Linked DNA regions of Homo sapiens. The protein of the gene in region 4 purifies or fractionates together with the protein of the main gene of each other region. This does not show direct contact. Each region holds a gene or a part of one and is shown on either strand. Other genes may lie near its edges.

Region 1 (5,409 bases), on a different chromosome or scaffold from region 4:
TTACTTTTCTTGGGACTTTTCCAGATTCTCCTGATGTGGATTTTAGAAACTAGTGAGCTCCAGAATTCCTCGCAGCACCCCCACAGTGGCTTGGGCCAGAATGTAATGGGCTGCAGTGCTCATCCCCTTCATGATACAAGGAGGCTGCTATTTCACTGAGCTTGTGGTCCCCTAGGATCCCTAACACATTTTCCTTACTTCCTTGGTTAGATGGCCATTGATAGAATAATTTGGGACAAATCTAGGCTACCAAAGGAGAGTGTTCTGAAACAGCGCTCATTCATGTTGAACTCCCAACTCCACACCCTTGGGACACGTGGAGCTGGGCCCCTCTGGCCTACAGTGAACGTGGACAAAAATACCTGAAAACTAATTGTTTTAATCAGCCACAGCCAGACTCTATTCCCACCCTGGAACCTGAGGCCAGTATTCACTCTGCTTTCTCTGAGGATACCTGGGAAGCCCCAGGCTACATTGTATGCGGCATTCCAGTGCTGGAACCACATCTGGAAGTGGCTGGGGTTGGGCAGATGCATACCCCAGGCAAGCACAAGGACCAGGTGGAGGGCCAGCAGCCTGTGGAGGGTACAGAGCCTTACCCTGTTGTCCTCAGTTTCCACAGTGACCTTCCCATCCTGAGAACTCTTGATTTTCCCCTTGGCATATTCTTCCTTTGAGTCCACCACGAAGCAATACGTCTTGGCATCAAAGGGCTGGTTCTGAGCCTCGATCCTCTCCTTTTCTGACTTCCGGAGGAAAGGAGCAGCTATGCCGAACACTTCCATTTCAGTGTCACTACTCATGGTGTCAGCTGGAAGGCAAACCCACCCGGTGAGCTCAGCAGCCCCCTTGCCAGGCACCCAGCAGCTCCAGGCCTGTTTCAGCCTCCACCCTGCCCTCCTTCAGCCGCAGGAGCCCTCAGAGTCAGGGCCCCAGGAACCAGGCTGTCCTCATGCCTTGAGAAGCTCCACCCAAAGGGCTTCAGTGCTGGGAAATCACACGGGTGCATATTTATTGAGGGGCTTCTTGTGCGACAGTCTTACAGCCTATTTAACCCAAGCTCCTCAAGCATCTGAGGCTTGAACTGGCGATAAGGGGTTTGGAAGTGAGCACCACTCTTGGGACCGCCTTTTCCGCTTCTGTGACAACCAGGTGTTGCTGAGGGAACGTTTAAAAATAAACACCCTTAAAAAATAAACGCCATCTTCAAAGAGAGTGTGCTAATGGCAAACAGCAAAGATATTTTTGAACCATTTCAATCAAGGTGGCTACACGCTCGTATGCGGGAACCTGCCTTTTGCTTCCTTGGGTTGCTAAGAACAAAATCAAGCATCTGACATCAGCATCTGTTTGACAGTCCCCCAAATGCCACCTCCTCTCCCGCCTGACCTGTCCTTGCCTTTTTTTTTTGAGATGGAGTCTCACTCTGTCACAGACTGGAGTGCAGTGGCACGATCTCCACTAACTGCAACTTCTGCCTCCCAGGTTCAAGCGATACTCCTGCCTCAGTCTCTTGAGTAGCTGGGATTACAGGCACTTGCCACCACGTCCTGCTAATTTTTCTATTTTTAGTAGAGACGGGGTTTCACCATGTTGGTCAGGCTGGTCTTGAACTCCTGACCTCATGATCTGCCCACCTCGGCCTCTCAAAGTGCTGGGATTACAGGTGTGAGCCATTGCACCCGGCCACGACCTGTCCTTGTCTAAATGTGCTAGTTCCCCTGTCCCTCTGTGCCCTTATGGCCGGTGGGAGGAGGGAGAAAGGAACTGGCAAGCTTGGATTGCCTGGAGATCTCCAACAGCCGAGGGACAGGGCCCAACTTCTCACCTGAGAGTCCCACCTGCAGGATGAGAGCAGAAGACAGCAACAGCCAGGAGATCCCAGACCTGGAAGAATATGCACATACACAACTTAGCGGCACTTGGGGTGGCTGCGTCCATGTAGAATCGGCTTCTGACGAGTTAACTAAAAAGGATAAAGGGGCCAGGCGCCATGGCTCACGCCTGTAATCCCAGCACTTTGGGAAGCCGAGGCGGAAAGATGGCCTGAGGTCAGGAGTTTGAGACCAGTCTGGCCAACATAGTGAAACCCCTTCTCTACTAAAAATAAAAAATAAATTTAAAAAATTGCTGGGCGTGGCGGCAGATGCCTGTGATCCCAGCTACTCTGGAGGCTTAGGCAGGAGAATCATTTGAACCTGGGAGACAGAGGTTGCAGTGAGCCGAGATTGTGCCATTGCACTCCAGCCTGGGCGACAAGAGCAAAATTCTGTCTCAAAAAAAAAAAAAAAAAAAAAAAAGACTAATACTTTAAAGAGGCAGGCTGGAAGATGGAAGAGCAGATGGGACGTGACCCACAGGAAGCCAGGCAGGGAGGAAAAACCCTCAGCTGTGCAGAAATCTGGTTTCTCTCAGCCTGCACTGGCACCTTCTTCAGTCTTCCTCACTCCCATTTAGAATCGGACAGCAGGGACCGCATCCCTGCTTAAAGTCAACAGTTCGAGGGCAGGGGCAGGTCTCCTTGTCTGTGAACAGGCAATATCTCTGAGATTAATTTACACGCAATGCCCACAGCCAGTGTGGTCTTGAGAGGACAAGACACCTGGCAGATGTACAGCCCAGGTGGGGAAGGTGAGGGCAGAGTGAGGTCCCCAGTCCTGTTGACCCTTCATGGGTCACAGAGGCAATGGGAGAAGGTCAAGCCATGGCAGCTGGGCTCACGGGGCATCCAAAAGGATCCTGCCCAAGAGGACACTTGGAGAGGAGGACAGGGGAGAGTGTGTGGAGGAGAGAGAACCTGCAGGGCTCCTGCTTGGGGGAGGTGCTGGAGCCAGAGGGTGCTGGGTGTTTGGGCCCAGGGAACCTCGCTCTCTACACCTTGCTTATCCTAAGAAAACTCAGAAAGGCATGAGGCGCCACCTCAGCAGAGCCAGGCAGGGCCAGGGAACCACGCACGGGGTGTGGATGTGCTCACCGGGTGGGTGTGCTCCAAGCAGCTGAGACCTAGAAGAGGAGCCTGTGACTTACCTCCGCCCACAAGCGAGCCACAGAGGGCTGGCTGCTCCCCGGGGCTTTTATAGGCCATTGGTAACCCCCGCGGCTCATTCCTTCTCTATATTTGGCAAGAGGATGAGTGGCCCCCCCAAGCCGAGAACCAGCTTCTTCCACACGTATCTTTGTCGTTGCCAAGGGAAAGGTATAATTAGAAATGAGCAGGATCCATCACCATTTTCCGACCGCAGAATGTCAGGAGCTTGGGATGCCTTTCTCTGAACTTGGGGCCGGTGCTCCCTCCCCTGATGGGATGGGATGGCCTCACTCCAGGAGGAGTTGCGGGGGCAGCCACCTCCGTTCTCAGGCGCTCATCACACCCTGAACGCGGCGTGAGCCCCTAGCTATTGGGCACCAAGGACTGAAGTCGGGTGGCTTACTTAGAAATCTCATCATATGGAAAAGTGAATAAGACTGAGAGTGAAAAGTTGAAATCCTTTTTGAATTTTGAGCAAGATTTTATCACAACCTTGGGTTGTGATTGCAAAACCTGTGCCAGGAATAATTAATAATAATAATAATTAATAGCAATAATTCCCCTCCCCCCTTGCCCTCTTCTCCCTTCTCCTCCTTCTACTCCTCTCCTTCTTTCTCTTATTTTCTCCTATGCAACGTTCTGTCTCATTAGTATCATTATTAACTTAATTCTTTCTTAAGCTCTAATAGGACCAGCCAGTTAAGTTAGTGACGTGGATCTATGCTGCCAGCTCGTATTCCCGGCGACAGCTGCCTGAGGACCTGTGGCTATTAAGACAGATTACCAATTAGGAAAGACCAGCTGCTGGCTGGGATGGGGTAGGGGGAACGGTGGTGGCCTGCAGAGAAAGGGCGGACAAGGGGGGGCTGTCTAACAAATGTGGTCATCTCTAAATCAGGAGTGGAAAAATAAAGCCTCAAGAGAAGAGTAAAGTATGTCGGACGCTTTTGCCCATTCTCGTTCTACTTTTTTTTTCTTGACAAATCTTTGGGAGGATGGCTGGGTGGGCACCCTGTGGTTGCTTATTCCAAATAGAACTGTTTGTCCATGTTTCCCATAGAAACCGCCCCTTCCGTACACAGCAGTACCAAGCCCCGAAGTGGAGGCCACTCCATGAGGTCTGCGTGGGACCGGGGAGGCAGGGCTGCGGTCTCAGGGCAAAGGCACGTGTATGAAACATCCTCTGTGCTCTGGCCCTTACACACAGTGCTTCGAGAAGACGCAGAGGAAACAGAAGACGCAGCCTTTACCCTTAAGGGTTTGAATTCTAGATGATGAGTCCTGTGGATGCTACAGACGCATTTACAAAATTGAGGTGATTTCACATTGAAGCAACAAGTTTATGAAGCGCCTGTTCCGTGAATGCCAGGCAAGGCCAGTGGCCGCCAATGGAGTCAGTTGGGCAGGGCTCACTCACCCCTTGCCTGTCCACCAGCCACTGAGCGTTGCCCCCACCCACTGCCCCTCTCCCTCCAGGTGAGACTGACATGTCCATCCTTGGAGCCCCTCCTCATCCAAGGAGAGGGTAACCGTCACTCCTAAAGTGTCCGTCCATGTCGTAAAGGGAGTGGTCCCCTGGGGCTCTGCCCTGTTGGCCCAGTGATGCACTGTCTCCTTGGGAGTATTGGTCAGGACAGCCACGGACAGGTAAATATCACCGAGGGGAGCAGCGGTGTTAACAAGGTCCGTGGGGTCAGGGGACAGGGCAAGCTGTCCTGGCTACATCTCCAGCAGTGGTGTATGCAGGGCAGGCTGTGGGTGTGGCGGGGGTGGACGTGGGAACTTGCAGTTCCTACGTCAACACCCAGACCTGTTGACAGGAGGAACTGTGTGGAAATGAAATAGGGGGCAATTTTGCTTTTTCCCTTTTGCAGTGACCAATGTACTCATCTATCTATATAACTACATCCATACTCACCTCCAGGAGACAGAAAAGAAATATTCCCTTCAACATTTCTTTTAGTTCCCTTAAGAGAGCACCCATATCACGTTAGGACCTAATACAAGCTCTAAAATGCTGATGGCTTCTCGCCTGGCTTTCCACACTGTCCTTGTTTCCTTCCTTCTCTTCATCAGAATTCTTCATCTTCAGCAAACAAATATAAGTGAATCTAGGAGAAAACGTCACAGACTCCTAGAGTGTTCAGCTGTGAGATCTTGGCAGTTTCTTTTAGTCTGGATCATTCCTCCTATCTTACGTATTTATTTTTCAGTAATATAGACATCACTGGACACTTTTTATGTGTCAGGCACAGAACCCAGAACTTCCAGAGTGCTCCACATGGAGATGGCCTGGTCCCTGCCTTCAAAGAGGCATTCGTCTGTAGGGCTGAGAAGAGGAAGACACGTTCCCCCAGATGAACTGTGTGGTACAAGATCAA
Region 2 (4,609 bases), on a different chromosome or scaffold from region 4:
AGGGGTGGGCACCAGGAGGTGGGTTCAGCTTTCTCCATAAAGCAACCCCACCCTTGCCCTTCTCCTCACCCCAATCTCAACATCATCCCTTGGCCTCATCTATGTCCAAACCCCCAGTGGACCTGTCATGGTTTACTGTTTGCTGATAACAAAGAATGCCAATACAGCAGTGAACTATTTAAGAAAAGCTTCATGGCCATTGGCCCTGAGCTCCTCCCCACACCAGACATGGTCATCATCACCGCCATTTTACCTGGCTGGGGAGAGGGAAACAGGCTCAGAAAGGTTAGGGGACTTCCCTAACCTAAGATCACTGAGCTATAAGAGGCAGGTTAGTATGAACCCTGGAGTTTTTTAAAAATCATGTTCTTTCTCCTTTTTCATGAGTCCAGCAAAGTGCTAGGAATAGGCTCCAGTTGAATTTCTTTCTCCAGTTTTCAGGTGGCCCTGCAAATCCCAGGACCCATTTGTGCAGTCCCTACATCCCCTAGCCGTGCCCGGGCAAGGCCATCTCGTGCCTCCCTAGTTCATTTTCTCTCCTCCTTCTCACACCCTGCCTCCCGTCCAGGGATGCAGCAGAAGCAGAGGGCCTCAGCCTGGGGAGTAGATGGCATGTGGCAGGGTTTGGGCTGTGATTTCTTTTTAGAATTCTTGGAGAACTGTTGGTCCACAGCCAGCCTTATTGCTGGGAAGGGAAGTGATTTGATGCAAGGCTAGTCAGTGTGCTCCTTGCTTGGGCCAGGTGGCCCGAGTCTAGCCCTTACCTTAACCTCCTCCTCCAGCTGCCTCTTGAGGTCCTCCAGCTGCTGGGTGTAGGTGAGCTTGCCTCGGGTCAGCTGGGAGATCAGTGCCTCCTTCTCATCCAGCTGCCGGGACAGCTCACCTGGGGAAGCACCATTCTAGATCAGCACTCCTCTCTATCCCCACCTCCTCCTCTAGCCCTCAGGCCCCATTTTCTGGAGAGACTCTGTGTCTGTGTGTGCGTGTATTGGCTTGTGCCCGAGGCTGGAGTGGCTCAGGAGGTTGGGGAGACTGTGGTGGGAACCATGGAGCCCCTGCTCTAGGCTCACCATTCTCGGTTTGCAACTTGGCCCGCTGGCTGGTGAGGTCGTTGACAGAACGCTGGGTCTCCTCCGCCTTGCTCCGGTGCTCATTCATCTGGTCTTCCAAGGTCCGGCACATCTTCTCCAGGTTAGCCTGAGAAGGGAAGGAGAGTTATATGATGGATGTTGGGGGCGGGGGGAATGAAGGGGTGTAAGAGGTGCAACTGAAGGAGAAAAGAAGAGGGAAGGTGTGAAAAGAAGGAGGGGATCTGAGAACCAGGCAGAGGAAGGGAAGTGGGAAAATGAACCATGAAGGAAGAGACACTACATGGACAGAAAGGGGAGGTGGGAGGAGGAAGTTGGAGGAGGGGAGGCCGAGCAGAGCCTGCCTTGGCCTTGATGATCTGCTCCATGTTGGAGGTGACGTCATCCAGCTCCAGCTTGAACTCGCTCTTCTCCTTCTCCAGCTTCTGCTTCACCCGCTGCAGGTTGTCGATCTGCTCGCCCAGCTCGGCCACGCTGTCGGCGTGCTTCTTGCGCAGGGCCGCGGCAGTGGCCTCGTGCTGCAGCGTGGCCTCCTCCAGGTCCCGCCGCATCTTCTGGAACTCGGCCTCGCGCTTCTTGTTCATCTCGATCTGCACGGACGTGGCCCCGCCGGCCTCTTCCAGCCGCTCGCTGATCTCCTCCAGCTCCCGAGACAGGTCTGAGCGCAGCTTCTCCACCTTAGCCCTGGCGGTGCGCTCGGCCTCCAGCTCCTCCTCCAGCTCCTCGATGCGTGCCTGGTCAGACACAAAGGGCTCAGACCCACCGCCTGGACCCCTCCACTGGAATCCCCCCGGCTCTAAAAGGCTCTCGGCTTCTCTGGAACAGCAAGTCAGTTTAGCTCTTCCAGTGGAGAGGTGGGAATTAAAGGATTTGGGGAAGATAGTTTGAAGAGCCTTCCTTTAGGCGAGGGCCTGACAGTCTACATGCTCTTTATTGGAAGGAAAGTGGTTGAAACTTGCTCTTAAAGATGGACAAAGAGACCTGTGTTCTGGGGATATTTTAAGCAGTTTAGTCATAAAAAAATAACAAAAGTTGAAAATGAGAGAGCCGTATTTGTCTGACCAGACAACTAAAGACCTAACACAGCTTCTGCTCTAGAGTAAGGAGGAAAGTCATGCCATCAGAGTCGAAGGACTCTTAAAAACCTCCATGTAACAGGGGAGGGCATGGAGACCCAGAGATCTGGAGTGGGCTCCCAGAGGTCACCCAACTAAGGCAGAGCTGAGACAGGAAGCCAGGAATTCTGCCCTCCAGGCCTGTGACCTTTTCAGGGTCTCTGTGGATCACCTGACCCCTTTTGGATGTATCCATGGGCACACTGTGATAGCTGCGTGCCTGCCTCCATGGACACATAATCAGTTCCTGTAATGCTGTGAACAGGACACCCTAGAGGAGGGGGCAGGGGAAACAGAACCAGCCCAGGGACTCAGCATCCCGCGTGGGTGTCCAGACCTCACCTGAAGCTCCTTGAGCTTCTTCTGCAGCTGGCTGCCGAGGGCCTGTTCATCCTCAATCCTTGCGTTGAGAGCATTCAGCTCAAAGTCTTTTCTGTGGGGAAGGAGGGATGGTGAGGTAAGGGAGACTCGTGGGGCCTCAGGAGGGTCCACCAGTGGTTGAAAATGGTAATGATACAGGTAAAGAGTAGGATTTCATTAGAAAAACAGCTTCTGGGGGTGATGTAGGATCCCTGGAAGTGTAACACCTGCGGTGAGATTGAAATCCAACAAGAATGTAATGGGAGGAGTGCTGTAGACAGGGTGATGGGGCCTGGGCTCTACAGGACATTCCCATCTTTGGTCCTTGTTTTCTCATAATGTAAAATGAGGGGGTCGGACTAGATTGTTTCAAAGGTCCTTTTTAGCTCTGATGGTCTTTAATTTTGTCACTATTGCTTTGGGTAACTCAGCTAACCTTTCTGAAACTTATTTTCCTCTTTGGTAAAGTGAAATTAAAGATACCATCCTTAAAAGGTGTTTTGAGAATCAAATAGGATCGTGTATTTATTCATTTATTCAACACATTCTGTGCCTGGGAAGGTATGAAGATTCCTGTGCAAACACAAACTTGATGAGGATGTAGATTATGATGATTCTCAAAGCCTTTCAAAGTCCTGAGCCTGAAACACCATAAGACCTTCAATTATCAAAATATGTTCTGCAAGCTCACTGTTTACCAAGTCTGGAAAGTCTATACATTTTGGAAGAACTTACACTAAGAATTGGAACCACAAGTTAAGCAAAACAAAGAAATGGCCCTGATCCCCTGACTTCTTTAATGTGAGGGCATTTCTTGGTGCCCTGTGGGCTCTCTGTGAAAAGCCACAAAGGGACTTTCCTAAGAGGCTCTCATGTGGAGCCTTCCTCCATGTCAAGGAACTGGTCTCCAAAGAGAGATGTGTATGAAGGGGGAAGGCTGTTATTTTCATTCCCACTGAGTGCCTAACAAGAAGAAAGGACTCATGGGATACAATGGACTTTTTGCCAGGGAGGACCATCTAACTAACCCTGATATCTGGGACTAGGGGAGGAAAGCCCTTGCCTGGGAGGCCTTTTCCCATGGTTTGCGCCTCCACTTGTGGAGGCTGCGTGAGGTTGTTGCCTCAGAGGATGGCTGTCTTGGGTCTGCTTGTACTGTTATGGGCTGGGGAGGAGGAAGGGCAGCAGGGAGGGGACACAGTACTTTTTCAGCCGCTCATCCAGCTGCTGCTTGTCATTCTCCAGGTCCATGATGCTCTCCTGGGTCAGCTTCAGGTCGCCCTCCAGCTTCCGCTTCGCTCGCTCCAGGTCCATGCGCACCTTCTTCTCTTGCTCCAGGGATCCTTCCAGCTGGTAGAGAGAAGGAGCCAGGCCCAGTGAGGCAAAGCATCCTGACTTGGTGATTTTGTTGTTCAGTTACCTCAGGACTTGGTAAATCTTTGTGTTCAGGACTTGGGAAACCTTCCCCAGAGTGGGCCAAATGTTATTAGGGGACTGTGAGATTGCCTAGATATAGGGGATGCTGAATCAATATTTTATAGATAAAGGAATAAATGACTGTGGGATGAAACCCCAAAGCCGTATTCTTTCTTTCTTTCCCTTTCTTTCTTTCTTTCTTTCTCTCCTTTCTTTCTCTCCTTCCTTCCTTCCTTCCTCCTTTTTTTTTTTTTTTTTTTTATGGAGTCTCACTCTGTCGCCAGGCTGGAGTGCAGTGGCGCGATCTCGGCTCACTGCAACCTCCGCCTCCCTGGTTCAAGGGATTATTCTGCCTCAGCCTCCTGAGTAGCTGGGACTACAGGCGCACGCCACCACATCCAGCTAATTTTTGTATTTTTAGTAGAGATGGGGTTTCACCATATTGGCCAGGATGGTCTCGATCTCTTGACCTCGTGATCCACCCGCCTTGGCCTCCCAAAGTGCTGGGATTACAGGTGTGAGCCACCGCGGCTGGCCGCCGTATTCATTCTTTCAGCATCCTATAAACACCTACTGGGCATCAGGCTCTGTGCTAAGCACTGCAGTCCCCAAATTGAATAGATCTAAGTT
Region 3 (4,609 bases), on a different chromosome or scaffold from region 4:
TTCTATTTTTGAGATGGAATCTCACTCTGTCACCCATGCTGGAGTGCAGTGGTGCAATCTTGGCTCACTGCAACCTCCGTCGCCCGGATTCAAGCAACTTTCCTGCCTCAGCCTCCCAAGTGGCTGGGACTACAGGCAGGTGCCACCACGCCAGGCTAATTTTTGTATTTTTAGTAGAGACGGGGTTTCACCATGTTGACCAGACTGGTCTCGAACTCCTGACCTTGTGATCCACCCGCCTCGGCCTCCCAAAGTGCTGGGATTACAGGCGTGAGCCACCGTGCCCAACCTCTACTTTTCTTCTTACACTTTATCCTCTTCATTTCAAGCCACATCCTTTCTCTTCCTTTTCTGAACTGGAGGCTCTTTTGTTCAGTGTCCTCTCAACATTTGTTGAGAACTCCCACATGCATCGTTCCCTGCTGGGCATGGTACAGGGATGCATGTGCCACCCTCACTGACCTCCAGTTACTCCCCATCTTGAGGAAACATGAGACAGCTATATCAACACTCATAACACAAAGTGGAGAACGGCAGGTGCTACAGAAGCCCAGCTGGACTGTGGTGAGGTGAGCCAGGAGGTGGCTTGACTCATGGGCTCCCCTGTGCCTGCCTATGGAGTCATGTGCTTTGAAGCAGCAGGACCCTGGCCCTTTGTGTCTTCAGAAGTCCCCTGGCCCAGTGCAGGGGCTGCCTGCTTACCAGTATCGGCAGTTGCGTAGGAGGAGAAGAGAGTGGCCATGAGCTTGAGGGAGGACTTCTGGTACAGGGCCACAACAGTCTCGTTGAGAGGATCCTTGTTTTTTTCCAGCCAGCCCAGGATGTTGTAGTCCACAGTGCCGGCGTAGTGGATCAGGGAGAAGTGGGCTTCCTGCTTCCCCTTGATGTTGCGTGGCTTCTGGAAATTGTTGGACTTGCCCAGGTGGTTGTCGTACAGCTTGGCCTTGAAGGTCATGTCAGTGGCCTTGGGGAACATGCACTCCTCCTCCAGGATGGACATGATGCCCATGGGCTGAGGGCAGGGTGAAGAGGCAAAGAGAGAATCACTGAGCACACTCCCAGGCTTCCACAGTCCCATACCCTGACAGGAAAAGGAATCTGGAGCCAGTAGCGCTGGCCTGCTGAAGGGGCGCTGTGCTGGTACCTCTTACCCTAAAACAGGAAGCCAATATTCCTGGAATTTAAAAAGCCCCTTCCTCCTCCTTTCTGCCCAGTGGGTCCAACAAAGAGTCATGCACTCCTAATCACCCCCCACAAGGCCCACAGTGCCTCACAGCACAGCCCCTTCTCTCTGATGGCTCACTGCCCCAGGGGCAGGAGGGCAGGGACAGATGTGTGTCAGAGGCACCGGGCCAGGCTCTGTCTGTATGACACCAGTAGCAATTCTTCAAGGGTTAGATAGAAGGATCCAGGTTCTTTACCACACTCTGCACTTCCAAAAACCTGGTGGTTCTTGATTTTTCTTGGGGCAGGAATCCTTTTAAGAATTTGTTGAAGCTAAAGACTGTCTCTCCAGAAAAACGCATGTACACACACACACGTACACACACACACATGCACAAGCACACACATGTATGTATGAATGTACACATGCTTTTTTCCACACACAGTTTTATGGCATTCTGAGGGCTCTGAAACATGAGAACTCTGGTTAAGAATCTGGATAATGACCCAAAGCATGTGGGGAAGCTCCCATTTCATGAAGGCCGTGGCTGGGCTGGGTGTGGGTCAGACAATCCGGGCTCTGGCCTATGCTGACAAAGAGCAGAGGTTCACTGAGAGCAAGTCAGCCCCAGCCTATGGGGCCTCCCGCCTGCGGCCTTGTCTCTTCTGAGGAATGCCCATAAGCAAGAGGGCTGGAGACTGGCTTATTTCTCAACCAACAGGAAGGTGGTGGGAGGCCAAACATCTCTAATTTCAGCCTAGGATCTTTCCATGAATGACGCTTCTCATGGGCGGTCAGAGGGGCCAGGGGCCTCTCCTTCACTACATCTCACTCTTAAGACACTGAGGGGACCACCACAAAGGGGCATAAAGTGCAAGGTCCTGGGAAAGGAAGAGTGGGGGGATCATCCTGTTCATGCCCATGACTTCACAGTGGGGAGAAGCTGGGCCTGGAGAAAGGCCTGGGATTCTTGGGACTCTAGTTTCTTGGGTGTAGAAGGGACTCAGCCACCACTTTGTCTGGATGGCAGAGGAGGGGGCATAGGTGGTGAGGCCAAGGAGGCACCTTCTCGATGAGGTCAATGCAGGCCTGCAGGTCCATGCCAAAGTCAATGAATGTCCACTCAATGCCCTCCTTCTTGTACTCCTCCTGCTCCAGCACGAACATGTGGTGGTTGAAGAACTGCTGCAGCTTCTCGTTGGTGAAGTTGATGCAGAGCTGCTCAAAGCTGTTGAACTGCAGGGGGCATGAGGGGTGGGAGCAGTCAGAAAGTGGGTGTGAGTGGCCATTGGGGCTGTGCCCGTGCACTGTGCCGAGCCCAGCAGGGTATGGCTGTCCCCTCCATGTCAGGGCAGTGGAGGAGGGCTTCCCCTGAAGACAGGGACAATGACTGCCTCTGTCACCACACAGTCCCCACTGCCTTCCCATGTCTGGTCCACAGCTGGCTCTCAGCAAATGGCTGTTGAATGTAGGAGCAAGCGAGTGATTGTTCTCCCACTCCCAGGGGTCCCAACTCACGTCGAAGATCTCGAAGCCAGCGATGTCCAGGACTCCTATGAAGTACTGGCGTGGCTGCTTGGTCTCCAGGGTGGCGTTGATGCGCGTCACCATCCAGTTGAACATCTTCTCATACACTGCCTTGGCCAGAGCCCCGATGGAGTAGTACACCTGCTGCACGCTCTGCCCCTTGGTGACATACTCGTTGCCCACTTTCACCCGAGGGTGGCACAGCCCCTTGAGCAGGTCAGCTGAGTTCAGCCCCATGAGGTAGGCCGACTTGTCAGCATCTGGTTGAGAGGGAAAGGATAAGTGAGCACTTCCTTTTTTTTTTTTTAAGATAGAGGCTTGCTCTGTCACCCAGGCTTGAGTGCAGTGGCACGATCTTGGCTCACTACAGCCTCCACCTCCTGGGTTCAAGTGATTTTCCTGCCTCAGCCTCCCAAGTAGCTGGGACTACAGACATGAGCCACCATGCCAGGCTAATTTTTGTATCTGTAGTAGAGACAGGGTTTCACCATGTTGCCCAGGCTGGTCTCAAACTCCTTACCTCAAGTGATCCACCTGCCTTGGCCTCCCAAAGTGCTGGGATTACAGGCATGAGCCACTGCACCTGGCCTGAGTGAACACTTTCAGGGAGTGAGCCTCCTTCCCTGTCCTGGGGCCAAGACTTTAGGAAGCATCAGGTCCAATTTCTTTTCCTTAAAGAGGAAGAAATCAAGGCCTGGAAGAGCACAGGGCTTGCCTTGGTTACTCAACCAACGTGTGCCTGAGTCAGGCTGGAGCACAGCCCCCTTATCCGGCCCATGGCCTCTTGCCACAACTGGCTCTTCTCAGCTCTGTCTCTACATCTGTGGCATCTCTGGGTCAGGTCTTTCACAAGCACTGCTGTGGGCATATCCCCACCTTCACCATATCCCTCGCCTCTCCAGGGCAAGGGTGTGGCTGAGGGGCTAGATGTCCTCTGCTCCCTGTCTCCTTCGTTCTCTACCCCAGTGTCTAGCCCTGGACTGGCCATGCTGTCTTCTCCATCCACATGTTACCCAATCTGACTGGCTGAGAGTATATCAGACAGTACCACGCTCCTACCCCCAGCCATCCAAATGTGCCACCCAACATGGGTATTTCTCTGTTTAGAGGAGGAGTTATTTGGTGTAATTTCAAGAATGTTGTAATAACTGTTGGTGTGTTATCATGAACCCCAGCTTGACACTTTGATCTGGGCAGACTTGGAGAAGGGTCCCTGAAGGTAGGGAGGAATGTTCTTGGGCACCTGTCTAGCACTGTTTGCACCTTCACATTTTCTCAAAGGACCTCACAGTAGCCACCAGAGGAGTGAGGAAAGATTGTTGATCCATTTCACTGAGGAGGAAACTGACACACCAATGCCCTGGGCTATGTCCTGACCCCTGGCCCACTGCCTCCCAAACAACATGGTATGAGCCCACGAGGGGCTTACCCAAGGGCTGGGCAGGCAAAGGCCCTGCATTAGTGATGGTGATGTGCAGAGCTCAGGGGCTGTGCTTCCTGGGGCTGGGGGAGTCTTGGGCACAGGAGGAAAATTCCCCACCTCAGTTCTGGTGAGTGCAGCTGGGGTTGAGGAGTTGGGATTGTGGTGGACTCTCTGTCTGCCCACGTCTCCCACGTCCCTGTCCCTCACCATCCCACAACACACCCCACTGCCCCACAAGCCTCAGAGTCTCTGGGATCTGAGTCCCGCAGAGAGCCTGGTCAGCACCTCAGGCCTTCCCAGGGCTGCCTGCCTGCCCCTCCCACCTTCGGTGCCGTCTGGCTCCGCCTGCTCCTCCCGCTGCTTCTGCTTGAACTTCATGTTCCCGTAGTGCATGATGGCTCCCGTCAGCTTGTAGACGCCAGCTTTCTCCTCTGAAGTGAAGCCCAGCACGTCAAAGGCACTCTGGGACAGAGCGAGAGACAAAGAGGGGGGTT
Region 4 (5,311 bases):
CAGATAAGTGGCCACCCCATCTCCGGGAAAGAATCAGTCCTGGGGGATAGGACCAGTGCAGGAGTGTGAAGGGGAAACAATTGGGAGGAGGGTGGGTGAACGTGGGGAGAGCAGAGGCCGGAGGGACAGGAGAGCCCAGGAGAGAAGGAAGGCGTCACCTGGTGGCCAGGCCTGGAACTGCAAGTATCTCTTCTGTGAGGCCTCCTGCCCTGTGCAGCAGGACTAGGTGAGGGATTGAAAGTGCCCTGACCTCTCAACCCAGCACACATCAGGGAGAGTTAATCCAGGTTTGCAGAGGAAGGAGAGTATGAAAGCCGGCAGGAGAAGCGGCTCTTAATGGAGAGGCCTCTTCTGATGGCCAGAGTCAGGGGCAGGACGGGGTCATTTCTCGGAGGTCAGGGCTCTGGTGAGCTGAGCATCCTGGGTGGTGAGTGTGTGCAGTGTGACGTCACAGGGACTGGGCAGAAGGGGCCCCAGGGGACCCTGGCAAGCAGCCACCAATTCCTTAGCCCTCCCTTCAGATCCCGAGCTCCGGACTGCAGACAGGGTGACTGGAGCCCAGCACAGCCCTCTCTTCCCAAGCCCCAAGTCTTCCCTTTCTTCTCAGGGCTCACAGTCAGAGCTGCAGAAATGACCAGGAAACTGGGTTTTTAATGAAGAAGGTGTGATGCCTGTGGACACTGTACACACATAGAAGGAGTGTGGCACAGGGCTGGAGGAAAGGTGTTCTCACCCCCTCCTCCTCCTCCACTTGTTACACCACGGGGTGGCTGAGAAGCCCCAGGTGCCTCATGGGTGGATAGAAGCCCACCCTGCCAGGGTGAGGTCTTCAGACACTCGCGTTTTTCCTGCCTCTTGGGTATCTGTTTAATCCCAGTTCCAGAGGAGGGCATGCAGGCTGGAGGGAAGAAGTGGGGGAGAGGTGGGAAGGGATGCTCCAGACACAGGCAGAGAGGTGAGTGAGCTGGGTTGGAGAAGAAGCATGAAGCAGGAGCTCAGAGCGCAGCACAGCAAGCTGGCCTGTAGGGACAAAGAGGCAAAGCCATCAGTTCCCGGGGACCTGTGTGCAGCGCATGAATCCCTGACTTACCTACAGCACATGCAGTCCCCAGGGCTTCTCAGCCCTAGCGCACCCCGGACTGGATCTTCATTCATAAGGGCTCCTACAAAACCTCAGCTTCTCGGCCCTCGGGCACAGTTGCTCCCCTTTTGGGACCCCTCACACCGCTCCTCCACACTGCGGCCCTCAGCTCTTACCTAGCCTTGCCATGCTACTCTGTGGCTGCTTAATTCCCACCTCCATGCTTCTGTTGCACCATCAGCCCTTCAACATGCCCTTCCCTTTATCAGCTAACACTCGCTCGTCGCATCCTCAGAGAGCTCCTCCTCTCCAGAAAGCCTGCTCTGACCAGTGCTGTCTGGTGGATGCCTGCCCTATTGCACATTCTCTCAGCACTTCCGTAGAGGGTTTTACGTGGCCTGATTTCCTTGCTTTGCCCAGTTTCTCCAGCTATTTCCTCAGATGGTGGGAAGTCTTAGCTTCTGTGAGTGGTAGCTCCTTGGGAACAGGTACTGTGAGTGCTGGGTACTTCGCAGGGAGCACAAATAAAGGACATCACCAGGAGGTATTTAAAAGTGCATAGATTCTCAGAAAGTCAGAGATGAAGGGATCCCAGGGACCCTCTAACCTAGTGGTTCTCAAACTCTCATGTGCATCAGAATCACCTAGAAGGCTGGCCTCACCCCAGAGTTTCCAATTTAGTGGATCTGGGGTGGGGGCTGATCATTTGCATCCCAGGTGATGTAGACGCTGCTGGTCCCAGGACCACACTTGGAGAACCACTGATTTGATACAGCCCCCAATTTCATAGATAATGGGAACAAAAAGGGCCGCCAAACAGAAATGACATGCCCAAGTATCATGGTGCTGGAGCCAGGACTGAGCCCAGGAGAGCCGACTCAAATCAGTCTCATCGGTGCCTTAGTCCGTGCATCCGTGCACCACACTAAGTACAACCCGCCTGCCCATTGTGGACTCCCTCATTATCCTCTAGACTCTGATGGACCCCAGAGAAGGGAGCTGGTCTCTAGGTACCTCTATTGTGAGGTCGGAGACTTGGCGGCATCAAACATCTTCTTCCGGCCTTCCATGCCAGACATGGCCTCCACGTTCTTCCTCCAGTCACCCACCTCCACAGGCCGCTCCTGTAGACAAGTGGCACACACATCAGGGACTTACCAGGCTGGACGGCCCCCCAGCTCAAGAGAAGCTGGGTGATAGGAAACCAGTCTCCTCGGATGATAAGAAATCCTGATGCCCCTCCCCAGCTGGTAAGGTCCTAGGACTCAGCCAGGCAGGTGGACACAGGCCAAGCCGAGGCCCCACAGGAAAAAGGAAGCTGTGTGGCTTGGGAGCACTGGGTGAAAGTGGCAGCTATGGGGCTAGTTCCCACCTCAGTGCACCTCAGCAAAACCTCCTCCAAGGCTCCATGCCACCCTCCTGGTCTGGCACTCAGCAGGCTCAAGGCCACCTCTTCCAAGAAGTCTTCCCCTGCAAATGCGGCTGCTTTTCCATTTCCTCAGTATATTGTCTGGCTTATCTCTTCTCCTCTGAAGCTTCTTGGGCCAGAGACTGTTCCTTCATCCCTGTTCCTTACAGAGCCTATCAATTTGGGGCACATATACTGTGAATTCAACCAACTTTGAATAATTTGTTGCTGGGTGGTTGAACTCAGTTCTCTAATGTCTATGCTCGTGTGTGGCTATAACCAAGATGAGCTGCTGTCTCCTTTCCCTGTGGTGACCAGGCAGTCATCTCCACCATTACCCTAAATCTCCACATTATCTTCACACTGGGAACAAGATTTTTACTTCATTTCTCCGTCTGGGGTCTAGCTTTCTTTATGTCCTAGTTTCTTCGTCAGACTGGGAACAGCCTGAAGGAAGGGAGCAAATCTTCTTTCTTTCTTCCCACACTGGTCTCCCAAAGCATTCTAGAATGTTCTGTCTGTCAAGCTGACTGGTCTCCAACAGGAGCTCCTGGGCCAGCCTGAGGCCATGTGAGGGGTTGACAAGGGGAAAGCTGGTAGGGCAGAGGGTGGAATGTTCTGAGGAAAGGGACCTCACCTTCTCTGTGTCTTCCTTCTTCACAGACTTGAGGTTGGCCCGCAGATCCATGGACACCTTGTGCTTGGAGCCCAGCAGGGCCCGGAGCATGGCGTCAGCCGAGACACGGACTCGACGCAGGGGCGGGCGCTTGAACTTCCCACGGAGGTCCATCACCTTCAGCTTCAGGTCCTTAATCTGTAGGTGAGAAGCGCCCGGGGCTCACTGGAGAGGCAGCTAGCCACAGGACACCCTTCCTGAGGACCTCAGACTGCTAGGGTTCCAGCCAGAGATACACCTTAAATTGTCCACCCTTGAAGCCAGACCTATCAGCAGTCACCAACCTTTTTGTCACCAGGGACCGGTTTTGTGGAAGACACTTTTTCCACGGAGAGGTGGTGGGGTGGTTTCAGGATGAAACTGTTCCACCTCAGACCATCAGGCATGAGTTTGATTCTCATAAGGAGCGTGCAACCTAGATCCCTCACATGCACAGTTCACAATAGGGTTCACACTCCTGTGAGAATCTAATGCCGCCGCTGATCTGACAGGAGGCAGAGCTCAGGCGGGAATGCTCATTTGCCCACTGCTCACCTGCTGCAGTGTGGCCCAGTTCCTAACAGGCCACGGACAGGTACTGGTCCACAGCCCAAGAGTTGGAGATCCCTGCTCTAGGACAGTCAGACCCACCCATCCCTTTGCAAATAACCACTGCACATTTGCTGATAAACGGATGGTTAAGTGGACAGATAAAGCCTATTAGCCGTTGCTAACACTATAGCCTTGAATAAAAGGGGCGGCTCCACCAGACTGAGACTTGTCTGATTTGGAAGCCCTATTTGGAGTGCAGGGCTGCTTCCTCTTGTTCCTGCAGCCTCATCCCTGCTTCTAACTTATTCCTCCCCAGTGAGCCTTCAAAGCAGCTCACAGCCTTGGTCCAGCAGGGTGATAAACTTACAGGTCCTAGACCCCTGGAGGAATTCCCAGGGTGTGATCTCTAGGGGGAGTTCTTAGGAGCTTGGTGACCCCACATATAATTCCTGGTGGGCAGAAGTGGGAAGGAGAGAAGTGGCTTGTGCTCCCTCCCTGCCCCCTCCTCACTGCCTGGACAAATGCCCCAAAGGAGCCCTGTCCTTCTCTGCTCTGCCCCTCCCCACTGGAGCAGGGTCTGGGTGGAGCTAATCCTCCCACACCCCATGCTAAGGGAGCACAGAGCACCGGAGTGGAAGCCAGAGACCAGCACTGGTCCCAGGACCACCACTGTGCAACCTAGGACAAGTCTTTGGCCTCTCTGATCCTGAGTGTTCTCCTCTGCAAGGTGCAGATAATAGCCCCTACTTCATCCACAGGCCTATAAGGAGGATCAAAGGCTATAACGAACATGAAAGCACTTCACAAAGGTAAGACGTTATTAACAGGCATATGATTATTTGTGTGGGTGGATAAAGAGAGCAGCTTCTGTTAGGCTGATGAGCCCACATGGCAGGTAGGGAGGAAGTTTGTACTTTTCATGTGTGATTATCCACTCTACCCATCTCCAGCCCTATGGGGCTAGGGCAGACAAACCAAAGTTTCCTGCTTAAGTGGCCCCTTCCTAGGCCCTGTGGAAGGAGGGGACCTCCCATGGCTGCTGCATCCGTGCCCATGCCCCTGCCCAACCCATTATGGCCATGCCCCTTCCCTTCCTTAGACTCACCTCCCTGGTGTTGTGGAGGCATTTGGCCTCAATGTCGTATCGCTCCTCATCCACCACCTCCACCTTGGCGTGCAGCTCCCGGCACAGGTCCTGGGGGCCGCAGATGGATCATGCAGGTGTGAAGAAGAGGGGAACAGAGACATCAGTTTCCAGCCCTTGACCCTCTCCCCAGCCCCTTTGCAAGACCTGGGATCCAGAGAGGAGCTGACAGTCTCCTCCACTCTGAGGCTCATGACGGGCAATAGCTCAAAGGGTATGCCCTCTGTTCTCCTGTCTGAATGTCATGATTTCTTAAAAAATAGTATTCCTTCGCTTGAACCCAGGAGGCGGAGGTTGCAGTGAGCTGAGATCACACCACTGCACTCCAGCCTGGTGACAGAGCGAGACTCCGTCTCAAAAAAACAAACAAACAAACAAAAAACTAGTATCCTTGGCTGGGCACGGTGGCTCATCCCTGTAATCCCAGCACTTTGGGAGGCCAAGGTGGGGGATCACCTGAGGTCAGGAGTT

The links. The genes of interacting proteins can lie anywhere in the genome.
Region 1: the proteins of TNNI1 (region 4) and MYH3 fractionate together in Homo sapiens (co-fractionation; one large-scale study listed by BioGRID). This does not show direct contact.
Region 2: the proteins of TNNI1 (region 4) and MYH7 fractionate together in Homo sapiens (co-fractionation; one large-scale study listed by BioGRID). This does not show direct contact.
Region 3: the proteins of TNNI1 (region 4) and MYH6 fractionate together in Homo sapiens (co-fractionation; one large-scale study listed by BioGRID). This does not show direct contact.

Annotation. Positions count from the first base shown.
Region 1 is NC_000017.11:10,654,262-10,659,670, forward strand, and holds the start of MYH3 (myosin-3), read right to left. Parts: upstream 3,049-5,409; 5' UTR 3,028-3,048; exon of another isoform or gene 2,975-3,027; intron 1,888-2,974; 5' UTR 1,829-1,887; intron 812-1,828; 5' UTR 804-811; coding exon 600-803; intron 1-599. UniProt on the Homo sapiens protein: Muscle contraction.
Region 2 is NC_000014.9:23,418,413-23,423,021, forward strand, and holds part of MYH7 (myosin-7), read right to left. Parts: intron 3,914-4,609; coding exon 3,768-3,913; intron 2,637-3,767; coding exon 2,546-2,636; intron 1,823-2,545; coding exon 1,433-1,822; intron 1,198-1,432; coding exon 1,071-1,197; intron 884-1,070; coding exon 765-883; intron 1-764. UniProt on the Homo sapiens protein: Myosins are actin-based motor molecules with ATPase activity essential for muscle contraction. Forms regular bipolar thick filaments that, together with actin thin filaments, constitute the fundamental contractile unit of skeletal and cardiac muscle.
Region 3 is NC_000014.9:23,398,026-23,402,634, forward strand, and holds part of MYH6 (myosin-6), read right to left. Parts: intron 4,578-4,609; coding exon 4,439-4,577; intron 2,953-4,438; coding exon 2,684-2,952; intron 2,402-2,683; coding exon 2,231-2,401; intron 1,013-2,230; coding exon 703-1,012; intron 1-702. UniProt on the Homo sapiens protein: Muscle contraction.
Region 4 is NC_000001.11:201,408,231-201,413,541, forward strand, and holds part of TNNI1 (troponin I, slow skeletal muscle), read right to left. Parts: intron 4,892-5,311; coding exon 4,802-4,891; intron 3,304-4,801; coding exon 3,127-3,303; intron 2,206-3,126; coding exon 2,098-2,205; 3' UTR 2,096-2,097; intron 1,021-2,095; 3' UTR 1-1,020. UniProt on the Homo sapiens protein: Troponin I is the inhibitory subunit of troponin, the thin filament regulatory complex which confers calcium-sensitivity to striated muscle actomyosin ATPase activity.